Homo sapiens: one gene and its partners. The protein of the gene in region 1 interacts with the protein of each later gene in a biochemical or structural test. Each region holds a gene or a part of one and is shown on either strand. Other genes may lie near its edges.

Region 1 (7,860 bases):
AACCAGTATAAATGAACATTTCAGAAGTGGGAGAAAATCCACCACTAATCTCAGCTAGACAAACTTCTTAAAAATGAAAAAGCCTATTCACACAAAATTATATGTAATGACTGTAGTAACCAGTTTATTACACAGATTAATCATTCTTGAAAGTACAAGCTCCAGAGGAGCAATTGGGTCTTTAAATATACACAAGTATTTCCATCAAATGAATTTTCACCCTTACATCCAAATAGACCTAAGCGGTTAAAAACATAAGAAAAATAAGAGCTATTAGCTATGTATTAACTGAGAAACCACATACAAACCAAAGAATATGGAAGAGAGAAAGAAGGGCTGAAAGGCCAAAGGTTGAAGGGGTAGGGAGATGTAAAAGAGTTGGGAACAAAGCCCATCACACTTGATGTACTAATAGCTCCAATCCATTTAAATGTTGACCAGTTAAACTTAGACCTTAAAATGCAGGATGTGGGTAGAGTTTAATCTGGTTGGTCATAACTTTCACCTAAGACGTAGCTCCTTCGGAATAAAATGAATACAGACACAGCTTCATGTTCTTCACCTTGCTTTTCATAACTGTTTTGAGTTTAAATGGATTCCACTTAAAAATAATCTCCTATAGGTGAGTGGAGCCTTTTCTTTCCCATCCAAGCACACACCATACCCACCACCCCCCTCACACCTTGCTGTTATCCAAATTTAAGTCAATAAGAAAAGCTTTTAGTCTCACACCTAGGTAATGCCTGTAGAACTGGCTTGTCACACACACACTTCTCTGCTAGGAGGCAATGTTGGTACAGAAGTACAGTATTTCTAGTTTGTTGTTCCAAGTATGTACAACACGCAGCACTGCTGTATCAGGTAAACATGTGCACAGGGGAAGATGAGGCGTGGGCTCATAGAAAGCAGTCAAATGGAAATCAAAAGGACTTTCTCTTTCAGAGTTCCCCTATCTTTATTTGTAGAGGTTATCCAATAATTTCTTTAATTACATCGCATACTTCTGAGTCCATTCCCGAGCTATTCTGTTGTACCTGTACACACAAAGAGAAGCTTGGCTTAACATAGGTGTGGAGTCAGTAAGCAACAGATTCCATTCATTATCCCATCAAGTAACTTGAAGAGAGTAGCTTATAGGACATTCAAGGAAAGGCCCCTTTCTATCCCAAATTTCTGATAAGGATTAATTCAATGATAATGGGAAGGAGCTGTAAAATGTGAAAGTCTCCTTTAATTGCTACTTATAGAGGGTTCTGATTAAATTTTAGTATTTGTTGGCATATACCTTATTCCATACTTGATTGGCCTATTTCTACAAAAGATGTCCACTCAATTCATTCATTTAAAGTACTTGAAATTATATGATTCTACATTACATAGTTCTTGAACTCATATACTAATAATGATTAAACCGACAGAAGGCTGGGCATGTTGGCTCACACCTGTAATCCCAGCACTTTGGGAGGCTGAGTCGGGTGGATCACTTGAGCCCAGGCGTTTCACACCAGCCTGGGCAACATGATAAAACCCTGTCTCTACAAAAAAATACAAAAATTAGCAGGGTGTGGTGGCGCATGACTATAGTCCCAGCTACTCAGGAGGCTGAGGTGGGAAGATCGTTTGAGCTCAGGAGGCAGAGGTTGCAGTGAGCTGAGATTGCAATACTGTACCATAGCCTGGGTGACAGAGTGAGGCTCTGTCTCAAAAAAAAAGGGGGAAAAAAAACCAAACTTTCCTTTCATATCAATAAAACAATTGGTTCTGGTAGAACTAATTTCAACAATTTGGTTGACAAAATGAATGGGTTTATTGCTTCAGAAGAACATTTGAATAAAGTAAGCAGAGCAAATGATTCTATAATTCTCCTATTAAAAAACGGGTGCTAGGCCGGGTGTGGTGGCTCACGCCTGTAATCCCAGCACTTTGGGAGGCTGGAGCAGCTGGATCACTTGAGGTCAGGAGTTCCAGACCAGCCTGGCCAACATGGCAAAATCCCGTCTCTACTGAAAACACAAAAATTAGCCAGGCATGGTGATGTGCGCCTGTAATCCCAGCTACTCAGGAGGCTGAGGCACAGGAATCACTTGAGCCTGGGAGGCAGAGGCTGCAGTGAGCCAAGATTGTGCCACTGCATTCCACCTGGGCAACGGAGCAAGACTCTGTCTCAAAAAAAAAAAAATTAGCTGGATGTGATGGCATCTGCCTGTGGTCCCAGCTACTTGGGAAGCTCAGATGGGAGGACTACTTGAGCCTGGGAGGTTGAGGTTACAGTGAGCTGTGATTGTGCCACTGCATTCCAGTCCGGGCAACAGAGCAAGACCCTGCCTCAAAAAAAAAAAAAAAAAAAAAGGGGGGGGGGTGGGGGTGGGTATGCTGGCCTTGCACGGTAACTCATGCCTGTAACAGCAGCACTTTGGGGGGCTGAGGCAGAAGGCCTGCTTGAGGCCAGGAATTAGAGACCAGCCTGTGCAACATAGTGAGATCCTGTCTCTACAAAAAAAAAAAAAAAAAAACAAATTAGCCAGGTGTAGTGGCATGTACTAGCAGTCCCAGCTACTGGGGAGGCTGGAAAGGTGTAGTGGCATGTACTAGCAGTCCCAGCTACTGGGGAGGCTGGGGTGGGAGGATCACTTGAGCCCATGAGTTTGACACTGCAGTGAGCCACGATTGTGCCACTGTACTCCAGTCTGGGCTGAAGAACAAGACCCTGTCTCTGCAAAAAAAAAAGTGGGGGGTTAGAGGGTGGGGGCAGTGCAGTTTGGGAAAGTTCTGTTCAACAGTGTTCAACATTACTCCATGATGACTTGGGAAATGACTTCTGGTAAGCATTCAGACCCACAATTCTAAATATCGGACAAAACAGTTCTCTAATCAAAAAAATTTGACAATAAATTCACAAATAGGAAAAAGCAAGAACCAACTACTGTTAGAATATCCCATTCCCAGTGTTACCTCCACTAAAAACAAAAACGTATCTATGCCTCTCTAATCCACTAGAACTCAAGTTGGAGACGTGAGTCTTGCTCTGTCGCCCAGGCTGAAGTGCAGTGGTGCAATTTCAGCTCACCGCAACCTAAACGTCCTGAGTTTAAGCAATTATCTCAGCCTCTCGAGTAGCTGCGATTACAGGTGCCCGCCACCATGCCCGGCTAATTTTTGTATTTTTAGTAGAGACGGGGTTTCACCCCGTTGGCCAGGCTGGTCTCAAACTCCTGACCTTGTGATCTGCCCACCTCAGCCTCCCAAAGTGCTGGGGTTACAGGCGTGAGCCACTGCGCCCGGCCCTAAAAGAACTATCCACCCTCTCCTATCTAGTTCCTCTTATAACTTCACTGAATACTACATAAAACAGATGTTATTAGTGCTGGGCATGGTGGGCATGCTTATAATCCTAGCTACTCCAGAGGCTGAGGTAGGGAGTTTGAGACCAACCCAGGCAACACAGCAAGACTCCATCTCAAAAGAAAAAAAGAAAAGAAAAAATGCTACTAGAACACTTTTAGCTACTATCTCTTTTGATATCTTGACCACTGTTCAATAATTCATAGTACAATTCTAAAATACCCAAATTCTACATCAAGTTTTGTTTTTAAAAGAAATTTGGGGCTTTCACGTCTAATGGCATTTATTTGCTTTCTTCCTTTAGATTATGTCAAATGGTAGGAAATCAATTCTCTTTTCCCATTAATTGACAAATACCTATGGCAGGCAAATGGGCACTTGATGAAAAGTGCTTTATATATCAAAAGCCAAGCATAAGGCATTAAGCTGTTGAAAAATATACCATAGGAAAGTTTTTGTATGGGTGTGGTGGCTCACACCTGTAATCCCAGCACTTTGGGAGGCCTAGGCAGGCAGATCATTTGAGGTCAGGAGTTCGAAACCAGCCTGGCCAACATGGTAAAAGTCTCTACTAAAACTACAAAAAAAACGAACCTGGCGTGGTGGCCTGCGCCTGTAATCCCATCTACTCGGGAGGCTGAGGCATGAGAATCACTTGAACCCAGGAGGCGGAGGTTGCAGTGAGCCAAGACTGCACCATTGCACTCTAGCCTGGGTGACAGAGTAAGACCCTGTCTCAAAAAAAAACAAACAAAAAAAAAAGTTTTTGTAGACAAGAGGAGTCACGTGAAACAATCAGGGATAAGACTGGCATCATCTACTTATAATAATACTCAATGCATATATTTCTCTTTTCTAGCCCCAGGAGAGTATATTAGGACTTCACTTTAAATATCTGGCCGATATTCAGCCCTTAAACAAGAAAGATTTGTGACAAACATCTCCATCCCACCACAGATAACTTTCCATCTTGAGGCCATACTTACTTTTCTCTATCTGTTTTGTAGATCCGAGCAATCTCAGGCACTAAAGGATCATCTGGATTGGGATCACACAACAGAGAACAGATGGACAAGAGTACTAGAATGAAAAAAATCATATAAATTAGCAGAGGATCAAAGCAAAGGGTTGAGAGAAACATGAGACGCCAAAACATGAGAAAATTCTAAGAATTTATACTGTAATGCCTAGCAGCTTTGTAAGTTTTACTTAACTTTATATTAACAGTAACCAACAAGGATTATTATTATTATTATTATTTCTTTTTTTTTTAGCAGAATTGGGGTTTCACCATGTTGGCCAGGCTGGTCTCGAACTCCTGACCTCAGGTGATCCACCCACCTCGGCCTCCCAAAGTCCTGGGATTACAGGCTTGAACCACCATGCCTGGCCTAATTTTTGTATTTTTAGTAGAGATGGGGTTTCGCCATGTTGGTCAGGCTGGTCTGGAACTCCTGACCTCGTGATTCACCCGCCTCGGCCTCCCAAAGTGCTGGGATTACAAGCGTGAGCCACCACACCTGGCAAATAGTTTTTTTTATTTTTTATTTTTTGAGACGGAGTCTGGCTCTGTCGCCCAGACTGGAGTGCAGTGGCGCGGCGCGGTCTAGGCTCACTGCAAGCTCCGCCTCTCAGGTTCACACCATTCTCCTGCTTCAGCCTCCTGAGTAGCTGGGACTACAGGCACCCGCCACCACGCCCGGCTAATTTTTTGTATTTTTAGTAGAGACGGGGGTTTCACCGTGTTAGCCAGGATGGTCTCGATCTCCTGACCTCGTGATCCGCCCACCTTGGCCTCCCAAAGTGCTGGGATTACAGGCGTGAGCCACTGCACCCAGCCTACCAACAAGGATTTTAAGAAGCTTAAACAGACTTTAGGTTAGGTCATTAAAAAATAAAAATGAAGGCTGGCTGCAGTGGCTCATGCCTGTAATCCCAGCACTTTGGGAGGCGGAGGGGGGTGGATCACGAGATCAAGAGATTGAGACCATCCTGGCCAACATGGTAAAACCCCATCTCTACTAAAAATACAAAAATTAGCTGGGCGTGGTGGTGTGTGCCTGTAGTCCCAGCTACTCAGGAGGCTGAGGCTGGAGAATCGCTTGAACCTGGGAGGTGGAGGTTGCAGTGAGCCGAGATCGTAGCATTGCACTCCAGCCTGGGCGACACAGCAAAAAATCCATCTCCAAAAAATAATAATTATAATAAAAAATAAAAAATAAAATAAAACAAATAGCAGAAAATTAATGTTAAATGACATCTTGGTCTCCCAGATACAAATATAAGCCCCTTTGTGCAAAGTCTCACAACAATCCCATGATGTAAGAAGAGTTGATATGACTGTCTTTATGCCTGAACTCCTAAGGGAGCTGGCCCAGACAGGTGCAGTGACGTGTTCAATGTCCCTGGCTAGTAATTAGAATAGAATTAGAACTTTGTCTAAATTCTAGACCAAGAACATTTTTCAGATCCCATAAAGTTCAATTTTTTAGAAGCCCATATTCAAGGATAAATGGCTTTCAAAATTCCAAGTGCGATGGCTCACTCCTGTAATCACAGCACTTTGGGAGGCCACAGCAGAAGGATCGCTTCAGGCCAAGAGTCTGAGACCAGCCTAGGCAACAGAGTGAGATTCTGTCTCTACAAAAAATAAAAATATTAGCTGGATGTGGTGGCACACTCCTATGGTCCCAGCTACTCAGGAGGCTGAGGTGGGAGGATCACTTACGCCCAAGAGGTTAAGGCTGTATTGAGCTGTGTTCACACCACTGCACTCCAATCTGGGTGACAGAGTGAGACCCTGCCTCAAAAAGAAAAAAAAAAAAGACAGCCACACTACTGAATATTCTTAGCAAAAACGACAACCATAAAATCCAACAATCACTGTTTTCCAGTGGCAGGCACCACATTCAGACAATTGTTTTGTTTAATTTTCAGTTGAAAACAATTCAGTCTAAATCAAGAACATAAATGCAAACACTTGCCCCTAAATGGGGATGGTCATACACTCATTACAGAGAATACAACATACTTCTATGAATGTCTCAAATTCTCTTCAGTGACAATTTAGAATCTCATCTAAGCCATTTCCTCGGTGACAACCTGGGATGTAGCAGACAAATCTCAATAGTGTAATTTCCTTTGTTCAAATCTGTCATTAACTTATGTTTTAAAATATTTATTTATTTATGTATGTATTTATTTAGAGACAGGGTCTCACTCTGTCGCCCAGGCTGGAGTGCAGTGGCATGATCTTGGCTCATTGCAGCCTAAACCTCCTGGGCTCAAGTCATCCTCCCACCTCACTCTCCAGGTAAGACTACAGGTGAGTGCCACCATGTGTAGCTAATTTTCTTTGTATTTTTTGTAGAGGTTGGGTTTTGCCATGTTGGCCAGGCTAGTCTTGATCTCCTAGGCTCAAGTGATCCACCTGCCTCGGCCTCCCGAAGTGCTGGGATTACAGGCGTGAACTACCACACCCGGCCATATCTATCATTAACTTATGCATTCCTTACTGAATGCAAAGGGGGCATAAAGTCACTGATTACATTAAGTTCAGTAGCCTCTGACAAAATAAATTTAAATCCTTCTATACTAATGCTAATAGAGCTCAGCCATCTTTCTTTTCTCTAATAGGTGTTCTGTACCAAGAGATAATAACTCTCAGCCCATTTTACTCCCAACACATAAATTCAGCAGGGAAAGGATTCGCTCATATTCCTACCAAATCTATCCTATAGAGATCAAGGGCTTCTGAGAAGTAAAGAAATAGTTGGCATGCCCTATTCAGTTTGGTAACAAAAATGCTATTTCCTTGCCTTAAGAGTATATGAAAAGTTTTTTTAAAAAATCAGGAGAGATGTTTTCTGACTCTTCATTCCTGTTACCCACAATTCTGGCAGCTGGCATTCCAAAAACATTTTCCTATTGTCAGGTGTCATCACCTGAAGCCCTCTTCAAGCATAGAACATTCTAACATCAATTAGGAAAGACTTCATGTATTTCCTGGAAATGACAACAGGGAAGTTAGAAATTTTTGAATGTTCCTTTAACTTATTCTTCTAAATATTCTAATAAGTCAACTTTAAAGGACAGGTTTTAAAGAAAGGGCTTTTCTTTCTTTCCAGGAAAGGAGAGTACTGGCTATCTGGACCTTGTGAAAAGATTTTTAGTACACTACTTAGCTTCTTGATTTCATGAAGAATTCATTTTGGTTTCTAATATACTGATATGGTTTGGATCTGTGTCCCCACACAAATCTCATGTTCAACTGTAATCCCCAACGTTGGAGGTGGGGCCTGGTGGGAGGCGACTGGATTATGGGGGTGTATCCTTCATGAATGGTTTAGCACGACCCCTTTGGTGCTGTTCTTGTGATAGAGTTCTCATGAGATCTGGCTGTTTAACAGTGTGTGGCACCTCCCCCATCTCTCTCTTGGTCCTGCTACTGCCATGTGAGACAGGTGGCTCCCCCTTTGCCTTCTGCCATGAGTAAAAGCTCCCGAGGACTCCGCAGAA
Region 2 (7,430 bases), on another chromosome or scaffold:
ATATATATATACACACAACCATGTAAATACCGGGACATATAAGAGATAGTCAGAAAATCTCCTAAGAAGCTGTCCTGTTGCTGATGGCTAGCTCCAGCAAGCCGGAGCAGGGGCCTACAGTGGGAAATTCATATTCTGTGGTATACCCTTTCAACCATTTAAATTTTTAAAAGTTTACCAGGTCATGTTTTATTTATATAACAATAAAATCTAATCAGGATAGCCATAAATGCTATATCAGAATTAATCACTGTGAAATAAACCAGTGAAATATGATAAGTGGATACAAGTCTAGCCCAAAGCTACCTGACATTAGGTAGTCCATGGAGCCTCATTAGGATGTAATTCTGGAAATATTTAAGAGTTCATAGATTATCACATTTTCTACTTTCACAGACCGTAGAAGGTTGGGAAACCTGCCGGGCACGGTGGCTCACACCTGTAATCCCAGCACTTTGGGAGACCGAGGCAGGCAGATCAGTTGAGATCAGGAGTTCAAGACCAGCCTGGCCAACATGGTGAAACCCAATCTCTACGAAAAATACAAAAATTAGCTGTGCATGGTGGCACACACTTGTAATCCCAGCCACTTGCTAGGCTGAGGTGGGAGGATCGCTTGAATCTGGGAGGTGGACGTTGCAGTGAGCCAAGATAGCACCACTGCACTCCAGCCTGGGCAACAAAGCGAGACTCCGTCTCAAAAAAAAAAAAAAAAAAAAAAAGGTTGGGAAACCCTAGGCTGCAAATGTCTAATGTTGGCTAATCCTTTGTGCATTTTCCATATAGATAAGTCCTAGCTTAAGTAACCAAAAACTAGTTTTAAAAAAAACAAGGCATGTATCATGTCTCCATCCCCCAAGACCACGCTCCTTTCAGCCTGAGGCAAGTCAAAAAGCCCCGTCAAAACAACCAAAGATACCTACTTTTGGAATTCCCACTCTCTGTTGTCCAATGGACACACCTGTCGTGTTTTGAGCCAGCGAGAGATGCAGTGGAAGTGAAAAGCATGCTGAAAGAAAACATATATTTTATTAAAAATAACTCTATGCAGGCTCAGCCATCGAGCGACAACAGGTCCCACAGGGTAGTGGCATGGGTGACATATAGTGGGCAAGAAAAGAAAAGAAGACAACGAGAGGCAAAAGTTCAACAACTGATTATATCTTGGTTAGATGCAAGGGTATTTCCAACAAAGCATTTGTTAGAAATGTCATTACTACTAAAGGAAATCATTCAGGAAGCACAGGAGTATGTGCCAGCACTGAGCTCTCTTCTATTTAAGAGAACGTGGAATGTGGCTCCTTGGTCCCATTCAGCCTGTAAGGGGATACTTCCACTTTCTTTGGGAAAGGAGGCCCCTCATCAATGCAGATTTCAAATATCCCCATTCTGGGTCTCTAGCTTCCCTCCCACCCTCCTGCCCCTGGAGAATGCGACCTGTAGGAGCAGAGCCTTCTCCCCAGCCCTTGGTAGAGAAGTGCATGGTCACTGCCGCCCACCCAGAACTGAGACGGGCACTTCCCCAACCTCCCCACACCCAGCTCAGCTCTGGTCAAAGAAACTTTATTTCTAGATTTATTCACAGACATATTGATATTACAAGAGCTCAGTACTTCACGTGCCTTTAATGGGTGAGGGACTTTGTCTTAGGGAATGAGATAAAAGAAAATTGGGGTAAAAGGAAGTATTCTTATGAGGGACAAACGGCACACAAGCAGCCTAAAGAGCATCAAAAGGCTTATTTCATAATCAAGACAAGAAGTAAAAAGACAAGAGTATCAAGAACACTGGTAACTGACAGGGAGCTAGAAGTCTGCTTAGATTTGGGAAAAGGACAATCTGCATGCAGTTTTTTGGCGTGGGCTCATGACATGCAGATGCTAATCACAATGCTTCTGCAATGAGCACTTCTCCCCCTGCTCATGTGCGTATTAGGACAGACGCAGCAAGTGCTTCCTTCATTTCGTCTGTGATTGGTGCACTGTGGTGGGGCACGGGCAGAAATTACTCACCCTAACAAAACAACAAAAGCTTTACAAGCTTCATTTAATAACAACTGAAATCTGGTCGGTACGTCTCCCAAAGTATGTATGGAACTTAAGGGATTATATAATATGGATTATTATCTTGTGAAATGTTTTTTGACAAAGACAAAAATATAATTCAGTAACTAAGAGTGGAATCCACAGCTAGTACACTAGGGATACCCAAGAGGACAAATATTCTCTTAGAGTGACAGCCTTTTGGAAGATCCCTTTTCAGCTGACTCTTGTATAACTCACTGTGAAAAAGAGAAAGAGCAAAATTTCCAAAAGGCAGAAAGCAGAGACATTTTTCTTAACCATCAGGTGTTGGGGTCGGGCTCACCGAAGGGTATTCGACAGCTTCTCCCTCTCCCACCTCACCCACTGAGCACTTTGCAGCAGTACGGTGTCCTGGTAGAGCCCAACTAAGTCAGAGCATACCACGCGCTGGGGAAAAGGGGGCTGTAAAGGAGGTGTCAGGGAGGTGACAGCACCCCTGAACATTTACTAAGATGTATTAATGGATATATTTAGCGGTCAAAGTACAATTTACAGAAGATAAATTTATAGTACTTGACAGTTTACAGAAGATGTTGACATGTATTACCTCATTTGAGGCCTCACATCAACCCTGGCAGGCAAGCATGACAGATATTTTTATCTTCATTTTACAGACAGGAAACTGAAACCCAGACAAGTGACTTGCCTAATTCATGGAGCTGGTTTGTAGAAGACCCAGAACTAGAACCCAGGACTAATCCAGAGCCTTCTGCCACACCATGCTGGCTCTCTTCTACGGCAGGCTCTCTCAGAGAATCTCTCCTTAGCCAAATTTAAGGGGATGTTCACTCTCTTTTCTTTCCACATAAAGGAACATGGTTCTTAGTATATGTCTGTATGCCAGAAAGGGCAAAGAGCCCAATATACTTCCTTTATCCCCATGAACGATTAAAGCTCCCCCATGGCCAACATGGTCTATTGTGAGCCTGGCCAAAGGGTCCCAACAAAGATGGAAGAAGGTGTACCCGAAAGTGCGGGTAGGGGCTGGGCACGGTGGCTCACGCCTGTAATCCCAGCACTTTGGGAGGCCGAGGCTGGCAGATCGCCCCAAGGTCAGGAGTTTAAGACCAGCCTGGCCAACATGGCGAAACCCCATCTCTACTAAAAATACAAAAATTAGCTGGGTGTGGTGGTACACACCTGTAATCCCAGCTACTCGGAAGGCTGAAGCAGGACAATCACTTGAACCCAGGAGATAAAGGTTGCAGTAAGCCGGGACTGCGTCACTGCGCTCCAGCCTGGGCCACATAGTGAGACTCCGTCTCAAAAAAAAAACAAAAAACAAAAAACAAAAAAAAAAACAAAAAACCAGTGTAGGTAGGAAAAAGAGTTGCAACCCAACAGGAAAAACTACTGAGAACACCATCTACACAGTAACACCTCTACCTCAAATTTGTATTTATTTAGATTTTTTTTTTTTTGAGACAGAGTCTCACTTTGTCACCCAGGCTGGAGTGCAGTGGTGTGGTCTCGGCTCACTACAAGCTCCACCTCCCAGGTTCACGCCATTCTCCTGCCTCAGCCTCCCGAGTAGCTGGGACTACAGGCGCCTGCCACCACACCCGGCTAATTTTTTGTATTTTTAGTAGAGACGGGGTTTCACTGTGTTAGCCAGGATGTCTCCATCTGCTGACCTCATGATGCACCCGCCTCGGCCTCCCAGAGTGCTGGGATTACAGGCGTGAGCCACCGCGTCCGGCCTATTTAGATTTTTTTTAACAAGCACTTGTGCTTACTATGTGCCGGGAGTTGTTTAATCACATTTTAACATAAATCATCTAATCCGGATTACAATTTTATGTGGTCCACTATCAGCCCCATTTTATGAGGGAACCCAGGATTGGAGACGTTAAATGCCTTGCCTAACGTCACTTAGCAAGTAAGTCACAAAGACAGGGAATGGTGGTCTGACTCTAGAATCTCTTATCCCTGTGTCATGCTGGGAACTGTGAGTATTCTGTCCCCATGACACAGGAGGCCCTGACAAGACAATTTTAGCTCATGTGACTGGGACTTTACAGCTTAAAGAATGAATTTTTAACACATGCTAGAACTAACATATTTGATATTTGTTATCCTTCACAGCTGTCACACTCTTGGAAGGCCATTCAGTCCAATAAAGCTACACAAAACATTTCTGGCATAAGCCATGTTAAAAAATAATCTTATCTCAGTACATACGCCACACTTAAAACACACATACACAGAGACTTCAACACTCAATTTACTCATCAAACTTAGTTCCATTAGACACCTGGTCTTTAAAAAAGCCTGTTTCAAAGGTACAAAGTTCTACCACGAGAATATTCCAAAGGGTGCATGTAGGTTTTGAAGGCAATTCCCATAGATGAAGCCCCAAAATACTGCTAACAAAATTGGGTCCACTTTATAATTAAGACAAATAAGTGCCTCTTTGCAGTAACTGTAATTTTTACCCTGTAACAGGTGAATAGTATTATGATTTAAAATCTTTTTTACTATTTGTATACCTTTTGGGAGAAAGGTGGACTAGTCATTTTTTTCCCTAGTTATTTTCAAGACTAGCAAAGCAGGAAAAGTGGAAATATGTTTACAAGCCATGCTGACAGGTAAAGATGCTTCCTTACGTTACAGACTCCCCATGCGACAGTACACTCTTCTGAAGTAGCGGACGCCTGGTTAGCTTGACATTCTATGCCTGTGGGAACAAGAGCAACAGGATCACTGGACCTTGGGAGCAGCAACGTTTCAATCTATAGCAGCCAAAACAATTCTCAAGTGGTTAATTAGCCATAATTGTTTTTTAATGAATGTGGGAAAGGAAGAACAGAGAAGACAGAGATAACAGTATGCTTTCTGACGATTTCCTATCCTTGTTTAAAAAGAGTAACAAATGGGAAATGCACATCTCACTCCCGTTGCCCAGGCTACAGTGCAGTGGCATGAGCATGGCTCACTGCAGCCTTGACTTCCTGGGCTTAGGTGATTCTCCCTCAGCCTCCTGAGTAGCTGGGACTACAGGTGCGTGCCACCACACCAGCTAATTGTTTGTATTTTTTGTAGAGATGGAGTTTCACCATGTTGCCTAGACTGAGTTTTTTTCCTTTTGAGATGGAGTTTCCCTCTTGTTGCCCAGGCTGAAGTGCAATAGCACAATCTTGGCTCACTGCAACCTCCGCCCCCCGAGTTCAAGCGATTCTCGTGTCTCAGACTCCCAAGTAGCTGGAATTAACAGGCGCACACCACCATGCCTGGCTAATTTTGTATTTTTAGTAGAGATGGGGTTTCTCCGTGTTGGCCAGGCTGGTCTCAAACTCCTGACCTCAGGTGATCCGCCCACCTCAGCCTCCCAAAGTGCTGGGATTACAGGCATGAGCCACCGCACCTGGCCTGCAATGAGTTCTTGACTGAGATCAAGATCTGATGGGTAAAGCACAACTGGGGATAAATATTCACAGAACAAGAATTACTAATGCATAACTTGCTTTCTCTGATCATAGTAACTAAATGGAGTCTCCCTTCTGAAGAATAAAAAGCTTCAGGAGAAACTATTTAATAGGGGAGAATTACTTCAAACTACTACAGGTGAAAAATAGTAAAACTATGGCTGGGCGTGGTGGCTCACACCTGTAATCCCAGCACTTTGGGAGGCTGAGGCAGGCGGATCACGAGGTCAGGAGTTCAAGACTAGCCCACCCAACATGGTGAAACCTGTCTCTACTAAAAATATGAAAAACTAGCCAGGAGTAGGCCAGGCGCGATGGCTCACTCCTGTAATCTCAGCACTTTGGGAGGCCGAGGCAGGCACATCATGAGGTCAGGACTTTGAGACCATCCTGGCCAACATAGTGAAACACCGTCTCTACTAAAAAAAAAAAAAAAAAATTAGCTGGGCGTGGTGGCGGGTGCCTGTAGTCCCAGCTACTCAGGAGGCTGAGGCAGGAGAATTGCTTGAACCCAGGAGGCGGAGCTTGCAGTGAGCCAAGATTGCATCACTGCACTGGAGCCTGGGCGACAGTGCAAGACTCCGTCTCAAAAAATAAATAAATAAAAATAAAAATAAAAAAATAAATAAAAATTAGCCAGGTGTGTGTGGTGGTGGGCGCCTGTAGTCCCAGCTATTCAGGAGGCTGAGGCAGAAGAATTGCTTGAATCCGGGAGGCAGAGGTTGCAGTGAGCCAAGACTGCGCCACTGCACTCCAGCCTGGGTGACACAGTGAGACTCTGTCTCAAAAAAAAAAAAAAAAAAGTAAAACTATTAAAAAAAACAAAACTAGATGTTAATGGGCATGTGTGGTTTTAGGGGAAGAGATACCATGATAATACCTTTTTCTTTTCACTCTTCGAAAATGTGGAAAGTGGGCCGGGCATGTTGGCTCACACCTGTAATGCCAGCACTATGAGAGGCTGAAGTCAGGAATTCGAGACCAGCCTGACCAACACGGCAAAACCCAATCTCTACTAAAAATACAAAAGTTAGTGGTGCATGGTGGTACATGTCTGCAATCCCAGTTACTTGGGAGGCTGAGGTAGGAGAATTGCTTGAACCCAAGGGGCAGAGGTTGCAGTGAGCCGAAGTTGCACACCACTGTACTCCAGCCTGGGCAAAAGAGCAAGACTCTGTCTCAAAAAACAAACAAACAAACAAACAAACCATAAAAGGCTGGGAGTAGTGGCTCACGCCTGCAATCCCAATGCTTTGGAAGGACGAGGGTGACGGATCACTTGATGTCAGGGTTCGAGACCAGCCTGGCAAACATGGCAAAACCCCCTCTCTACTAAGAAGGCAAAAATTAGCCAGGCATGGTGGTGGATATCTGTAATCCCAGCTACTCAGGAGGCTGAGGCAGGAGAATCACTTGAACCCAGGAGGCAGAGGCTGCAGTGAGCCGAGATCACACCACTGCATTCCAGCCTGGGTGACAGAGTAAGGCTGACACACACACACACACACACAGAGAAAGCAAAGCACTTACTTTTGCTAGCCAGATTCACACTACAGAGTAACTTGGTTTGCCAACTGATAAAAATAAAGAATTGGGGCCAGGCCCGGTGGCTCACGCCTATAATCCCAGCGTTTTGGGAGGCTGAGGCGGGTGGGTCACGAGGTCAGGAGATCGAGCCCATCCTGGCTAACATGGTTTCTACTAAAAATATTTAAAAATTAGCCAGGCGTGGTGGCGGGCACCTGTAGTCCCAGCTACTCAGGAGGCTGAGGCAGGAGAATGGTGTGAACCCGGGAGGCGGAGCTTGCAGTGAGCCAAGATCGCACCACTGCGCTCCAGCCTGGGTAACAGAGCGAGACTCTGTCTCAAAAAATAAAAATAAAAATAATAAAATAAAATAAAAATAAAGAATTGGGTCAGG
Region 3 (7,366 bases), on another chromosome or scaffold:
AGCTGAGCAGCAGCTGTGCCCTTTAGAGAGGGAACATGTTCTCTTTGATTCCCTGACACTGGGACTGACTGTTCTGGTAGTCTCCACTAACAGTAACAGTCTAGCAATAACAGACTGTTGCTATTTGTCATTGAACTGGCACTATTGTTTTTCTTACAGCAGAATTATGAGAAAGTGAAATCAATGTAACACATGTGTCCATCAAAAGTAACAAAAATGAAAAGTAGAGAAAAAGGACATATGTTTTGAGAAAAATAGGATAATTTTTGTCTTTGTGGAAAGGAAGGATATTCCTTCATATCAAATACGTAAACAGAGTATGCTTTCATTTAAAAGAGACACCCCACAAGGCCTCATGCCATGGCTCACTCCTGTAATCCCAGCACTTTGGGAGGCTGAGGTAGATGGATTGCTTGAGCCCAGGTGTTTGAGACCAGCCTCAAACTGGGTGACTTGGCAAAACACCATCTCTACAAAGAAACTCAAAAATTAGCCAGACATGGTGGCACCTGCCTGTGGTCCCAGCTACTTGAGAGGCTGAGGCAGGAGGTTCACTTGAGCCCATGAGGCAGAGCTTGCAGTGTGAGACTGCATAACTGCACTCCAAACTGGGTGACAGAGCAAGACCCTGTCTCAAAAAAAGAGAGAGAGAGAGAAAGAGAGACACTGAGAGTTTTTCTCATTTATATCACCTCCATTTGAGTTTGCAAACCCCTTACACAAATCTTATCCTAAAGAAGCTTTAGGTCAGGCGTGGTGGCTCACGCCTGTAATCCCAGCACTTTGGGAGGCCAAGGAAAGCAGATAACTTGAGATCAGGAGTTCGAGACCAGGCTGGCCAACATGGTGAAACCCTGTCTCTACTAAAAATCCAAAAAAAAAAACCATCGGGCGTGGTGGCACGCACCTGTATTTCCAGCTACTCAGGAGACTGAAGCAGGAGAATCACTTGAACCCGGGAGGTGAAGGTTGCAGTAAGCCAAGATCACACCACTGCACTCCAGCAAGGCATATATTTGTGGAAATTTAGGCAACAACTATACAATAAATATACACAAATATGCCAAGATGTCAACCCTAGATCACTTCAACCTCTGTCCTAATCATTTCCAACACCTAGATGCAACCCTGCAGACTGGGACCAGCATCACTTAAGACTCCTCTGCCATCCCTTAGCAATAGGCTCAGCTCCCTAGCCCATGCCCTATGCACCTCTTCTAAACCTTCAACACCTTCCTCAAATTTCTCCACTGCACTCCATCTCATTTTCAGTCAATTACTTTGCCTTCTGTTTCTCAAAGAAAAGAGACATCATTGAGCAGGAACCTTCTCACGTTCTCATATCCAAGCCGTTTTGGCTCACAACCTACTTGCTGTCTCAGTTAAAGACTTGCCCCCTTATGGGATCCTACACTGTCCTACTGCCTCAGAAATCTTGTTCTTAATCCCATCCCCTCATTGCTTCAACTCTCATTCCTGTCACTCTCGACTGGCCTTTTTCCTTTCACATAACCATGCTTAAATCTATCTCAACTTTCAAATGAAAGAAATTTTTAAAATTCTCTTTCGGCCGGGTGTGGTGGCTCATGCCTGTAATCCCAGCACTTCAGGAGGCTGAGGCGAGTGGATCACGAGGTCAGGAGACTGAGACCATCCTGGCTAACACGGTGAAACCCCGTCTCTACTAAAAAAAATACAAAAAATTAGCCGGGTGTGGTGGCATGCACCTGTAGTCCCAGCTGCTCAGGAGGCTGAGGCAGGAGAATCGCTTGAACCCGGGAGGTGGAGGTTGCAGTAAGCCGAGACTGCACCACTGCACTCCAGCCTGGGTGACAGAGTGAGACTCTGTCTCAAAAAAAAAAAAAAAAAATCCTCTTTCAACCACACTTTCCACTCTAGCAACTACCCTGTATCACCCCTTCTCTTCACAGCCAAGCAAACTGGACATGTGTGTATGGTTAATGTCTCCATTTTCCCTCTCCCATTTACTCATTAAGTCAGCATCACTTAAAACTGCTTTCGGTGTTAATAACACCAATGGCTTTTTTGCTAAAACCAATGGAAATGTTTGCATCTGACACTGGGACACACTTCCTCTTAGAAATGTCCCATTCCCTGGGCTTCTCTGATACCAAGCTCTTGGGATTCTTCTTTCATTTCTAGTGGTTCCTTCTCAGATTGGCTCAGTCCCCAGCCTCTCCTCTTCTGACTCATTCATTTAACCTACCAAGAAGGCAACCTCCCCAGTCCCAGGGCTGTTGGGCATCCCTACCCTTTGGGCATGCAGCACATCCATTTTTCTGACACTGGAGGGCAAGTGTGCCTTTTCTTTCTGCCTCCCGCTAGACAGTAAGCTCTTTTAGAATGGCAACTATTAATATGTTTCATCTCTGTACCTGCCCTCCCACTCATAGCATCTGCAGAGCTTGGTATATGGGGTAGACACGAAGACTTCCCGTTGAAGAAGTAAATGACTGAGACCTGAGTGACCACAGTACTTCTATCAATTTTATATTAATGACCACAGAGTCAGCTCAGTGATTGATTAGTATCAGGCTTTGGAGTCAGACATCGGGGGTGCCCAATACCAAGCAGTCCGGTAACCAGAAGCATGACCTTGCACAAGTAAATCTCCAAGAGCCTCAGTTTCCTCATTGTCAAATGGAGATAATTATGGTACCTGCTTCTTAAGATTATGATAATTAAACGTGAAAAATACATGTAAAGTCTTCAGAGACAAACCTAGCACATAGCAGGTAGCAGTACTTAATGTTAGCAATAAATAATAGCAAATAAAGTCAATATTTAATATTATTGTTACGTTAGCATCAGGTACATGCCTTCGACAATGTATTGATCAGAGTAAGAGCACTACTAGGTTTCCATGCTGATCACCAGGAAGACAACCAAAAACTGCTGTCTTCCTACCACCGCTTGGAAACATGCGTCCATTTGCTCATTAAACGTTTTACTTCCTTCCTGTGCCAGAGCTCTGCCTTAGGCTCTGTCCTGAAATTTATTTGGCACCTGCAAAGGCCCAGTGATAACTCTTGGCAACCGAATCAAAATGCCACAACTTCACAATTCCACTGGCTCACTCCAAACGTGAAATAGAAATTGAGCACCTGGAACCTATCTAGAGCCTGCTTTTGGGCCCTGGTGTTTGATAACTGCGCCCCACCCACTGACTCTCAACCTCTGCAGCGCCCCGGGCTCTAGCCCTAAGCGCCCCTCGGCCAGCCGCTGGCACATCTCTTACACCAGGGGAGGCGCGCGCGCGCGCACACATACACACACACACACGCACACACACACACACACACACCAGCCTTCCTTGCCCACCTGCTGCCCAGAGGCCGACGACGCATGCACCAGCAAGGACAAGCCCAGTCTTTTCAAGCGACACCTGTCGCCTGGCCTTTTCCGTGCCGGAGGGCGCGAGTCTCACGCTGTCTTTTAAATGCGTCACCCAAATCCCCACCCCTATCTGTACCAGGCGTTCCGCACTCCTCCCAGTGGTTTGCATGTGCACTGGTGCTTTCCTTTTAGGACTTAGGGGAACTCCAGCGGTAATAACCACACACACTTCCTCTTAATCAGTGGCCTGGCAAACCCACTCGGGGATTTCCATGACCCAAAAGCATGACTCTTAACCGTGGCATATCTTCGCGGCATTTACTGAAAGACATTTGCTTCATTGCTCGTGGGTCAGAGGAAATCTTGATAACAACCCATATAGAGAGGACGATCATTGCTTAGCCTGCCTGGAAAAGGTCAATATGCCCTGTTCTCCACCCTCCATCCGCCATACACTTTACACGTAAAAAGGTTAGGTTTTTCAATCTTCTACTATAGCTGCAGAAGTCCAGCATTTAAAAAAAAAAAAATCGAAACTTTGTGAAATATTTCTATTTATTTTTACTTTTTGTTCTGATCAAGAAAGTAAGAGGTGAAAGGAAATGTAGGGGTATGTGAAAAAAATCATGCAGTTCTCCTTTGCAGTTTATTTTACCATTTTAAAGATTGAAATGGCTTGGTAAATTTTCTGTATGGAAATACTTTTGTTTGGTTTGGTGAGTTGTTTTTTTTTTTTTTTTAATAAGTAGGGTGGAGTTGGCTACTTAAAAAAATCCCTCCTTTATAGCCTTTGATCTCACAGGGCAGGTTTCTGAGTTGCAGTGCCATTCTCAGGGAAACCTGACATCTTTGAGTCTAATTGCACTGCCATATTTCCCTCAACGTTCTCTAAGCAGTAAATTTAAGCAACTTTATCTGAGAGCCATCCGTACCAGGGTAACAGATGGATTTGGAGAGCTCATCTGATTTTCTATCTTCCAGTAGATCAAAGACAATTACCAACCAGAGACAGAGCCCATAAAGATTATTGGAGACTTCATCGTTCTGTGGAAACAGCATCCAGTGCATTCTGCACGCAATTGGACTGAGCTGAGGCATCCTCTTGTTTAGGTGGACTTGGCTGTCCATAGCAGCTGAAGTTCCAGTTGGAATTATTTCAGAAAGACTAAGTGTATTTATCATATGGAGATTTTAATCCACATTTGAGTCTGCTTCAATCAAGACTTTCTAAGCCATTTTCAACTCACTCCTGAGATTATTGAAAATAATTTGCAGGCCTTACACATTTTTGATTATGTACTCACCAGAAGAATTTTGAAAAGCTCTGCATTCCCTTGCCCATTTTTAACTTAACATTAAAACATAAAGCTCTTGTACATGTCAAGAATCTACAAAATGTAAACATAGATATTTTCAGAAAAAATTGATAGAGCACTCTTTTAAATGTATTTGATGGATCCTAATACCATAGTAATTTGACATACATGATCATCCATGAAGCAATTATCAGGTCATCTTTAATAACTGAAAATATTTTATCATTGCCTTTTGTCATTGAACATTCCAATTCCCCTACAGAATGTTAATACATGTTTGTACTGAACATCTTTTATCATCTCTCTGTCACATATCTCTGAAACAAATACATATTAGAACTTGAAATCTATTTTTTTCTCTGGGATCATAAGGATCTAAGTGTTAAAAAAAAAAAAAATTCCTCTTTGACCAGGCATGGTGGCTCACGCCTATAATACCAGCACTTTGGGAGGCGAAGGTGGGTGGATCATCTGAGGTCAGGAGTTCAAGACCAGTCTGGCCAACATGGTGAAACCGGTCTCTCCCAAAAATACAAAAATGAGCCAAGTGTGGTGGTGCACGCCTGTAGTCCCAGCTACTTGGGAGGCTGAGGCACAAGAATCACTTGAACCTGGGAGGCAGAGGTTGCAATGAGTCAAGACAGTGCCACTGCACTCCAGCCCTGGAACAGAGTGAGACTGCATCTCAAAAAAAAAAAAAAAAAATCCTCTTTGATTACATTATCATTGATATTGTTTTCATTACTTTTAAAGCATAATTGGTCAATACAATATAAAAATATCGTAAATGTTAATAACTGCATTACAAATACAATTTAAGGGGGTGGCAGCTTGTATTTTAAGCAAGTTTTTCAAGTGTGCAGTCATGAATATTACCTATAGCTATAATATGTTAGGGTTCAGCACAGATTCTGTTCCTTTTTTCATTTCTACAGACATAAATGTTGTAAACCTTATTTCACAGAAGTAAGTAGATAAGTAGATAGGCCCAGAAGAAACATTATTATGGCAATTTTTTCACAATTTAAAAAATATGTTTTATATTCCAAAAATCATTTAGTGATCTCTAATCAAAATATGTAATTACTTATCAGTAGACAACTCAATTTTGTTGAAATTGGTGGTTTAGAAACCACTGAACTTTTGGTATCCAGATACAGTTGACAGAGTTAGCAAATTAAAACAGAGAACACCTAGTTAAATTTTGGTTTAATATAAACAATGAATGCATTTCCAGTATAAGAATGTATTGTGCAATATTTGGCACCTAGCTATACTAATAAGTTATTCATTAGTTATCTGAAATTTAGATTCAGTTTGGTGTTCTGTATTTTACCTGGCAACCCTATATCCAGATATTAGAGTCATTCATTTTCTCAACACTAATACAGATCGATTATTTCAAATCATCCAGGAGGTTTCTACACCCAGAGAAATATACGATTTTAAAACTCATGATAGGTGAGAGGTGAGCCTGTCTTTTAAGGGAAGACAGAGAACCATTGTGAAAAGGGAGATGAGAAGACAGAACAACCCTGGCAACCTTCACAGTTCTTGTTTTCAAGCAGATCAGTTTTGGGAGAAGCTACATATGGAAGTTGAGAGTGAGACTATTAATTCCTTAAAACTATTTGAGCTCCCACCTCCCTGTTGGTAAGTCTTTGTAAACACCCAGGGGCACACTTACCCCAGTTTAAAAACTATGGCTGGCCAGGCACATTGGCTCACACCTGTAATCCCAGCACTTTGGGAGGCTGAGGTGTGTGGATCACCGGAGGTCAGGAGTTCGAGACCAGCCTGGTCAACATGGCAAAACCCCATTTCTACTAAAAATACAAAGATAAGCGGGTCATGGTGGCAGGTGCCTGTAATCCCAGCTACTTGGGAGGCTGAGGCAGGAGAATTGCTTGAACCCGGGGAGGCAGAGGTTACAGTGAGCTGAGATCTCGCTACTGCACTCCAGCCTGGGAGAGAGAGCAAGAATCCATTGCCAAAAAAGTAAATAAATAAAAATAAATAAAGACCATGGCTTAAGAAATCCCTGAATTGACTGAGTCTCGCGTTTTTCAAACTGGTCATGAGAGCTAGGGTCAGGCCTAGTAGGTTGGAAGCAAATTAACATGTCTGCTTTGCAACATTTTGCACAATTAAAAAAAAAATGGTTTCCCTAGATAAATGTGTATGGGCAAGCACTGTATATATTTGTTCACTGCATTATTCTAGTACTAGTAGAGTGTCTGCTCAAAGGTGCTCAGTAAACCTTTGTTTACTGACTAACAAAAATAGAGCCAATCTATCCAAACTATCCACTTGGGCTTTCTCTATTCTAAACCTGCATCCACATCTTTAATGGTGTAACCTACCTTGCATTTTCTTTCTAACTCTTTGTATATCTCACATACTTTATTAAAAAAACTCCTCTTTTCCTTTCAACATCCAGCTGTTATCCTTGTGCAGGGGGCATGCTAATCTTCTTGGTAGGGTTCCAATTTTAGTATATGTGCTGCCAAAGCAAGCACAGCCTAAATATATTTTCTCTCCAAATACTCTTATTTTCTTCCAAGCCAGTGAATTCCAAGCTCCAAATACTCTTTTCACGACAGAAATACACAAGGAAACCTTTGAGGAAAGTGAAAGCTAGACACAAACTGTATAGCCATTACTATCTTCAGTTTTCTAGGTTTGTTTGTGGT

The links. The genes of interacting proteins can lie anywhere in the genome.
Region 2: the proteins of UBE2D2 (region 1) and RBX1 form a complex in vitro, tested with the Homo sapiens proteins (50 studies listed by BioGRID, with this or other methods).
Region 3: the proteins of UBE2D2 (region 1) and BIRC3 form a complex in vitro, tested with the Homo sapiens proteins (9 studies listed by BioGRID and IntAct, with this or other methods).

Annotation. Positions count from the first base shown.
Region 1 is NC_000005.10:139,619,930-139,627,789, reverse strand, and holds part of UBE2D2 (ubiquitin-conjugating enzyme E2 D2), read right to left. Parts: intron 4,423-7,860; coding exon 4,329-4,422; intron 1,035-4,328; coding exon 989-1,034; 3' UTR 1-988.
Region 2 is NC_000022.11:40,961,378-40,968,807, reverse strand, and holds part of RBX1 (E3 ubiquitin-protein ligase RBX1), read right to left. Parts: intron 4,762-7,430; coding exon 4,691-4,761; intron 1,010-4,690; coding exon 924-1,009; intron 1-923. UniProt on the Homo sapiens protein: E3 ubiquitin ligase component of multiple cullin-RING-based E3 ubiquitin-protein ligase (CRLs) complexes which mediate the ubiquitination and subsequent proteasomal degradation of target proteins, including proteins involved in cell cycle progression, signal transduction, transcription and transcription-coupled nucleotide excision repair.
Region 3 is NC_000011.10:102,313,548-102,320,913, reverse strand, and holds the start of BIRC3 (baculoviral IAP repeat-containing protein 3), read right to left. Parts: upstream 3,431-7,366; 5' UTR 3,343-3,430; intron 1-3,342. UniProt on the Homo sapiens protein: Multi-functional protein which regulates not only caspases and apoptosis, but also modulates inflammatory signaling and immunity, mitogenic kinase signaling and cell proliferation, as well as cell invasion and metastasis.